Regions from separate parts of the Homo sapiens genome. Here all the other regions are linked to region 2. Evidence: fine-mapped expression QTL. A gene starts in region 2. Each other region holds a variant in brackets. All regions are shown on one strand. Distances are between the middles of the regions. Region 1 has its middle 15 kb from the start of SMPD1. Region 2 holds the start of TPP1 (tripeptidyl peptidase 1). Region 3 overlaps HPX (hemopexin).

Evidence for each region. PIP is the estimated chance that this variant, and not a neighbour inherited with it, causes the effect.
Region 1: its variant is the best candidate, but not a certain one, in a credible set for the expression of TPP1 in lymphoblastoid cells (GTEx, PIP 0.65).
Region 3: its variant is the best candidate, but not a certain one, in a credible set for the expression of TPP1 in whole blood (INTERVAL, PIP 0.65).

The regions. Positions count from the first base shown.
Region 1 is chr11:6,374,247-6,377,009 of GRCh38, reverse strand. No RefSeq gene overlaps it. Among named protein-coding and RNA genes, the nearest start is that of SMPD1, 15 kb to the left of the region's middle. The variant G/A (reference allele first, on the strand shown) is at 1,653.
Region 2 is chr11:6,618,416-6,621,176 of GRCh38, reverse strand. TPP1 (tripeptidyl peptidase 1) reads left to right here and starts at 1,755. Exons shown (of 13, transcript NM_000391.4): 1 at 1,755-1,793; 2 at 1,910-1,981; 3 at 2,262-2,401. The coding sequence starts at 1,777. RefSeq lists an enhancer at 1,385-1,434 and a silencer at 1,985-2,034.
Region 3 is chr11:6,433,506-6,436,268 of GRCh38, reverse strand. The region is part of intron 7 of HPX (hemopexin); the gene reads left to right. Among named protein-coding and RNA genes, the nearest start is that of HPX, 6.1 kb to the left of the region's middle. RefSeq lists a silencer at 220-419 and an enhancer at 1,885-1,934. The variant G/T (reference allele first, on the strand shown) is at 1,234.

The sequences.
Region 1 (2,763 bases), 240 kb after region 2:
TAGTTAATTTTTTTTTTTTTTTTTTTTTTTGAGATGGAGTTTCGCTCTGTCACCCAGGCTGGAGTACAGTGCCATAATCTCGGCTCACTGCAACCTCTGCCACCCAGGCTCAAGCGATTCTCCTGCCTCAGCCTTCTGAGTAGCTGGGACTACAGGCACGCACCACTACGCCTGGCTGATTTTTGTATTTTTAGTAGAGATGGGGTTTCACCATATTGGCCAGACTGGTCTCAAACTCCTGACCTCAGGTGATCCACCTGCCTCGGCCTCCCAAAGTGCTGAGATTACAGGCGTGAGCCACCTCACCTGGCCCTCTCCTAGTTAATATTAAGTTATGTCATCAGTGACAAAAAACTGAAAATAACAGCAGCTTTAAAGGAGGTCGGCATTTATTCCTCCCTCACATAGACATAGCCCATCCAGGACTTGCATGACAACGATATGATGAGCAGGAAACCAGGCTGCTTTGATCTTGCTCACCATCCCCAAAATGTGGCTTTCACCTTGTGGCTCATGCTCCAGCCATCATCTCTACACTCTTGCCAGCAGGAAAAAGAACAGAGCCCTTCCCTTTAAGGACACTTCCTAGAAGTTGCACAAGACATTTTTACCCTTATTTCCATGGCTAGAACTTGAACACATTATTCTACTGCAAGGGAGGTGAAGAAATGTCATTTTTGTTCCAGGAGGTCATTTACTCTGCTGAAATTCACAGACTGTACTACCATAGAAGATGGGAGAATGGCTATTAGAGGACAAAGACAGTCTTAGCCATACTCTTTCTTTCTGACATTTTCAACCTCTCCTGCTCAATTTGAAAATCCAATCAAGATTCTATCTTTAAAAGTCAAAATGAGGTAAATCAACACAAAACAAATGCAAGCTTCTTTCTAGACCTAACCCAGTATCCTTCACTATCGGTGTTTCTCTGCTCTGTTTAACAGAACATATCTCAAAAGAACGTCCTGCACATGCTATTCCCATTTCCTTGCATTTTGACCACCACGAATCTATTAAAATGGCTAAGGCACCTCGTGACCTCCACATAAACATATCTAAGGGGCCCTTTTCAGTCTCTGTCTTCTCGACCTCTCAGCAGAATGGGATGCATTTGATTGTTCTCATTATCTTTGACACTTTCTTCTCTTGGCTTCTCCGACACCTCAGTCTTAGCTTTTAGATTGTTAAAGCAAACTAAATATGGCCTGAGAAGGACTCCATACTTCTATATTTGAGTCCTTGTAGACAAATCGTAACATAGCTTAATAGGCAGACAAGATTGAAAACCTAATTTAAGACTATACACCTGTAATGATAGCTGTGTCTTGGCCAATCCCAGCAGCCATACTTCAACCACTCACAGACTGCTGAGTGTTCAAACTGTGTTCAAATAAGGCAAAGGCCAACCTGTAACCCATCCAGCTGTTTCTGTACCTCACTTTTTTTTTTTTTTTTTTTTTGAGACAGAGTCTCAGTCTGTTCCCCAGGCTGGAGTGCAGTGGCGCGATCTTGGCTCACTGCAAACTCTACCACCCAGGTTCATGCCATTCTCCTGCCTCAGCCTCCCGAGTAGCTGGGACTAAAGGTGCCCGCCACCATGCCCGGCTAATTTTTTGTATTTTTAGTAGAGACGGGGTTTCACCGTGTTAGTC[G/A]GGATGGTCTCGATCTCCTGACCTCGTGATCCGACCGCCTTGGCCTCCCAAAGTGCTGGGATTACAGGCAGTGAGCTCACTACGTGAGCCGACTTCTGGTTTTTGTATATTACTTTACTTTTTTTATTTATAAATCTGTTCTGACCATGAGGAACCGCTGGAGTCTCTCTGAATCTGCTGTGATTCTAGGGGCTGCCTGATTCATGAATCGTTCATTGCTCAATTAAACTCTTTTAAATTTAATTTGGCTGAAGTTTTTCTTTCAACAAGATAAATTTGTCACTAATGAGAGTGTTAATTTTTTTCCAGTTTGATTTTCTGTCTTTTGCATTTTGCTTATGGTGGGTTTTGTAATGTGGAATTTTTATTTTATATTGTCAAAATCTTGACCTTTCCTTTTATGGGTTATGTGTTATGTCATACCTAGAAAGACCTTCTATGCTCCAAGAGAAAAATCCTGTGCTTTCTTCTTCTACTTCTTCTTCTTCTTCTTTTTTTTTTTTTTTTAATTGAGACAGGGTCTCACTTTCTCACCCAGGCTGGAGTGTGGTGGCATGATCTCGGCTCACTGCAACCTCAGGTTCCCAGGTTCAAGTGATTCCCTTGTCTCAGCCTCCCAAGTAGCTGGGACTATGGGCATGGGCTACCATGTCCTACTAATTTTTGTATTTTTAGTAGAGATGGGGTTTTGCCATGTTGCCCAGGCTGTTCTTGAATGCCTAAGCTCAGGCAATTCGCCCACCTTGGCCTCCCAAAGTGCTAGGATTACAGGCATGAGCCACAGCGTTCGGCTGACTGTGCTTTCTTCTTCTGAAGAAAAGAAATAGAAATTGTGGCTCACATGGATCTTCATTCGGACTTGAGGTGTCTCACTGGGAAGCCCTGCTGGCCCCAGCTGGTTCCAAGCATCAGAGACTTAGAAAATGTTGCAGAAGTCACTCCAGAGCAGGGATCCGCTCAGAGGTGGGGCTGGGCAGAAGCCCTGTTTGAAAGGTCTAACGGCCATACTGGAATGTGGGAATTAACTTTTTTTTTTTTTTTTGAGATGGAGTTATGCTCTAATTGCCCAGGCTGGAGTACAGTGGCAGGATCTCGGCTCACCGCAACCTCT
Region 2 (2,761 bases):
ATTCTTTTCCCTCTAATATGGGCAAAGAGGCCAGCAGGGCCTTGAGAGGGATCAGTTGGGTGGGAGAGGGGATCTTGGGGATGAGCAGCTCTGGGCCCGAAGTTCTTAAAATAAGTTGGGGTGGGTACAAGAGCAGTCAAGTGGTTTATTTGTTCTTCTTGGGGGCCACTAAAAATCCACATTGTAAAAAGAGCTCAATTTGTTGAGCCTTTGTCATGTCAGGCTCTCTGCAGGTGGCTGCCTTGCTTAATCTCAGTGTAAATTTTCACAGTCATACAAAGGGATTTGGGAACCACTGGTGTTGCCTGTTCTTTGGGGAGCCAGGCTGTGAGGGAAAGGCAATTGGCCAGTGTTTGAGAAGTTCATGAGATTGAGGAAATTAGAAAAAAAAAAAAAAGTTGTGGTCAAAGGGAAATGTTTCTGAGCATGATGCTAGTAAATACAGCTCTAGGATCCACGCTTAGTGGGAAACTGGAGGGATCAATGGACAGAGAGAAGTCAGATTAATAGGAGTGAGGAAAAACAATGGCTTGAAAAAACAGAAGGTTATAGTCTAAGAAAGCATTCTATAATTATAATTTCAAAGGTAGAGCAGTTTTGAGAGATAGCAAGCCCAATGCAGCCATGGGACTGGTTTGCTTAAGTGAAGTGAAGGTAATGCTCACTGGGTTTAATGAGATGAAGAAATGGAAGGTTAGGGTGTTGAATGGGTCTTTTACCTAGATATTTTGATCATCTAGGTCAAATGATCGCAGGAGTTGGGATGGACAGAAAGGTGAAGTGCCATAATCTTCAGTGTGGGAATATAATCTATAGGTTAATGGAAGCCAGTGGCCTGTAGGACAACAGCAGGAGTAGAGGGATCTATCTAAAAAGTATTGAGGTCAGAACAAGGGATTTCACATGAGTATTGGATTAATGGTTTTGGAAGTTAAAATGACACTGCTGACACCATCTTCCATATGGATTTTTGGGGGGAAAAAAAGGAAGACTGGAAGGGAATTGAATCCTCAGGGTTTTAACTCTCATTGAAAATCCTCTTGTAATGACCCCAGTTGGAAGTAGTAAACTCAGACCTCCTTGTGGGCTTTGAGTTACCATTAGAAGAAGCAAAGGTCCGTTTCCATTTTATCCACCTGAGCCCACTAAACAAGATGCAAGATTCCTCCATGGCCCTTAGAACAAAGTTGATTTCCTTGAAAACCTTGGGAACCCATAATAAACAGGACCCCAGCTGATTGTAGATCTCCTGGGAAGCTACTTAAAACTGGAAACTGATTTGAATAAAAGGATCCTGGTCTTGCAAAAGCTTTACTCTGTTCATAAATGTAGTCGTAAAATGAAGACAAAATTGATAATATGGGGACATAAAGGATAAAAGAGGAAAAAAATTTTTTCACTGCAATCTTTCGAGGCAGATCACTTTTATATAAGTCTCCATATTGTAAATGCAGAAACCTAGGCTCTGAGAGGTTATTTTGCTGATGTCATACAGCTAGGAAGAACCCCAGTCTGTGGGTCTCTACAGCCCACTCACTTGTGGTGATTCCCAGGGGACCAGGCTCAGGACGCAGGTGGGGAGCCCTGGGCTTACTCAGTGCTTGACTGGCCAGAGGGGAGAATCCGGGTGGCGGCCCCACCCTTGCCTAGCATTTGGGACCACCCATGCAAGGGAGGAGCCAGTACCGTCACTAGTTACTAGGCAGAGGGGTAGTGGTGGTGGAATATAGAGCTCATGTGATCCGTCACATGACAGCAGATCCGCGGAAGGGCAGAATGGGACTCCAAGCCTGGTGAGAAATTGAGAGGGCTCGGGAGAAAGGGATCACGTTGGAGGGAGCACACATTGGGAGGGTGGGAACACAAGGACAACGTAGCTCCCACTGAAACCCACCTGCTGCCCCTACAGCCTCCTAGGGCTCTTTGCCCTCATCCTCTCTGGCAAATGCAGTTACAGCCCGGAGCCCGACCAGCGGAGGACGTGAGTTGACTTAGCACAGACTGCCCCCTTCCCCATACCCTGTTCTGCCTCCCACTGTCCTGGTCCTAGCTTCTCTCACCCCCGTGCCAGCTCCTAGTACGCACTCCATAGCTTCATCTCTATGTTCCTAGCCTCAGTCCCCTATCATTCACCTCATGTGATCTGTATCTGCTCCTAGGATCCTCCCCAAGGTCTCAGCTCCTAATCTGGAACCTTCCATGACCAATATTTTCCATCTCCACCCTAACCAAAGCCATGTCCCTGACCCCTGACCCTACAGGCTGCCCCCAGGCTGGGTGTCCCTGGGCCGTGCGGACCCTGAGGAAGAGCTGAGTCTCACCTTTGCCCTGAGACAGCAGAATGTGGAAAGACTCTCGGAGCTGGTGCAGGCTGTGTCGGATCCCAGCTCTCCTCAATACGGTGCCTTTTGGGACTGAGGACAGGATGTGGGATGCGGTGGAGGGACACAGGGCTGGGTTGGGCATGGGATGGCGATCATGTCAGAGCCTGCCAAGACACTTGTGTTCCTCAGGCTAGAAACCTAAAAGGGGATGTGGTTCAGTATACAGGCTTTATGATCAAATACGAACTCAAATTCTGACTCTGCTACTTACTAGCTACCAGGCATCTAGTACAACTTACGTTCCTTCCCCTACCCTCAAATCCATTCTAATTTCCTCTTTTGTTCACATACTAAGGCTGCCAGTTCTAACTCCCAAAGAGCCTTTGGATTAATCTCCTTCTTGCCGTCTTTTGTTACGACCAACTCCGTTATTTATT
Region 3 (2,763 bases), 180 kb after region 2:
CGTGAAAATATTTTTTTCACACAAAATTTTTTTGGCTCCTGACCCTTGGACAAATTTGACCAGTTATGACTATCAAGTTCTGTTGAAAAATACATCACCACATGGAGAGCAAATCTCCACAGCAGGATTGCACACTATAATAAGAACATACAGCTAAGATGAAACACACACCTGTAGTGAAAATACAACATTAAACTGAGAACATACGCCATAGTAAGAACACATAAGTATCAAGAGAACACACAGCCATGGTGGGAGCCCATTGGGAGGACACACAGACAAAGTGAAATGCAGAAAGAGAGAGAGAGTGAGTGAGAGATTGTGAAAACAGGGCCACAGGAAACACACAGAAATAGAGAGAGACACCAAGCCATCTAGAGATCACAGAACTTCAAGGCCATGTGGCCATAATGAGAATGCTACTGAACTCCTAAATGAAAAATGTCATGTATGTTCCATAGCTGTTGAGAGAGCCCACAGCATGGAGAGAACACCTTATATTAAAAATACCCAGGCCGGGCGTGGTGAGTCACGCCTGTAATCCTAGCACTTTGGGAGGCTGAGGCAGGTGGATTGCTTGAGCGGCTTGAGCCTAGGAGTTTGAGACCAGCCTGGGCAACATGGCAAAACCTCATCTCTACAAAAAATATAAAAATTAGTCGGGTGTGGTAGTGCGTTCCTATAGTCCCATCTACTTCAGAGGCTGAGCCCGGAAGGTCGAGGCTTCAGTGAGCCGTGATCGTGCTACTGCACTCCAGCCTGGGTGACAGAGTGAGACCATGTCTCAAAAAAAACAAAAACAAAAAACAAAACAAAACAAACAAACAAACAAAAAACCCATATATATATATATATACCTAGCTGAGGTGAGAATGCACTATTTTGGTAAAATCACCAACATGACCCAGCTACAGCATGGGGCAGTCCCTCCCCTCTCACTGGTAAATTTTTCTTTCTCTGACTCACAGTTTTGTTGTTGTTGTTGCTGTTGTTTGAGATGGAGTCTCACTCTGTCACCCAGGCTGGAGTGCAATGGCGCAATCTTGGTTCACTGCAACCTCTGCCTCCTGGGTTCAAGCGATCCTCCTGCCTCAGCCTCCCGTATAGCTGGGACTACAGGCGCATACCACCATGCCTGGCTAATTTTTGTATTTTTTTTTGGGTTACAATGTACTATTTATTAATTTAATTTTTGTATTTTTAGTAGAGATAGGGTTTCACCATGTTGGCCAG[G/T]CTGGTCTCGAACTCCTGACCTCAGGTGATCCGCCTGCCTCGGCCTCCCAAAGTGCTAGGATTACAGGCATGAGCAACCACGCCTGGCCCCTCATAGGTTTTTATCTATTCTCTTTGCTTCTTCACAACTTTGGCTTGCACGTGGACCATCATGTTCTCTCCACTTTCTCACTACTTCATGATCTTTCAGTCTCAGTTCCAACTGATACCTCCCTCAGTTGCTCTTTTTTCCTAGTAAGATTTCCAGAGAGGGAATCTGAATGGCCCAGTCCATATTTTCAGACCACACCACATTAAAGTGGTTGATTGCCAGCCTATGTATTGGCTACATTAATGGGTTGGGAACTCATCATTTACTTCATTGCACAAAGCAGCATAGCTCTGGTTCTCAAAATAGGGCCCCTGGGCCAGGTGTGGTGGCTCATGCCTATAATCCCAACACTGTGGGAGGCCGAGGGGGGCAGATCACTTGAGTCCAGGAGTTCTAGACCAGCCTGGGCAACATGGTGAAATCTCATCTCTACTAAAAATACAAAAAATTAGCCAGGTGTGGTGGCATGCACCAGTAGTCCCAGCTGTTCAGGAGGCTGAGGTGGGAGGATTGCTCGAGTGTGGGAGGCAGAGATTGCAGTGAACCGTGACTGTGCCTCTGCAATCCAGCCTGGGTGACAGATTGAGACCCTGTCTCAAAAAACAAATAAATAAAATAAAATAAATATGGTTCCTGAGCAGGGTAATTTCAGTGGGAAACCTCCCAGGGGAGGTGGATATGTCAGTCACCGCTGTATACTCAGTACACGGCTAATAAGAGAACTTGTGGTAGCAGCAAGAACACTAGGTATTTACTCAACAAATATTTGTTGAGCATCTGATAAGAAGTGGGCATTGTCCTAGGCACTGAGATACAGTAGTCAACATGGCAGACAAGATGCCTGCCCTGACAGGCTCTGCTAAAGTGAGAGAGGACAATAAGAAAGAGAAAGGAAGAAAGAGAATAATTTTAGGTAATATTAAGGGTTGTAAAGAAAATAAGACAGGATAGTGGGATAGAGGTGAGGAGAATGAGGGCTGTCTTCTGAAGAAATGATTTTTGAGCTGAGACTTCAGTGATGAGAAGGAATTAACCACACGATGTGCTGGAGGAAAAGCATTTTAGGGAGGGTGAGCAGCACATACTTCAAGGAATCAAGAAGGAAGCCTGGTGAGGCTGGAACACAGAGAAAGAGCAGGTGGGTGACTTGAAAGGGCAGGGACGGCAGTGGCCAGGTTACCTAGACCTGGTAAGGGTTTTCAACCATAAAAGGGAGTCATCAGAAAGTCTTGAGCAGGGCTGTGATATATTCTAACTCATTTTTTATAAAAGATCACTCTGACTTTTTGCAGAACATAAGTTATAAAAGTACAAGCATGTAAGCAAGGAATCCAGCTAGCAATCCGTGCAGTTGTCCAAATTAGAGGTGATGACCGCTTGGACTAGGATGATAGCAGCAGAGGTGGTGAGGAATCACCATGATATATTTTGGAGGTAGA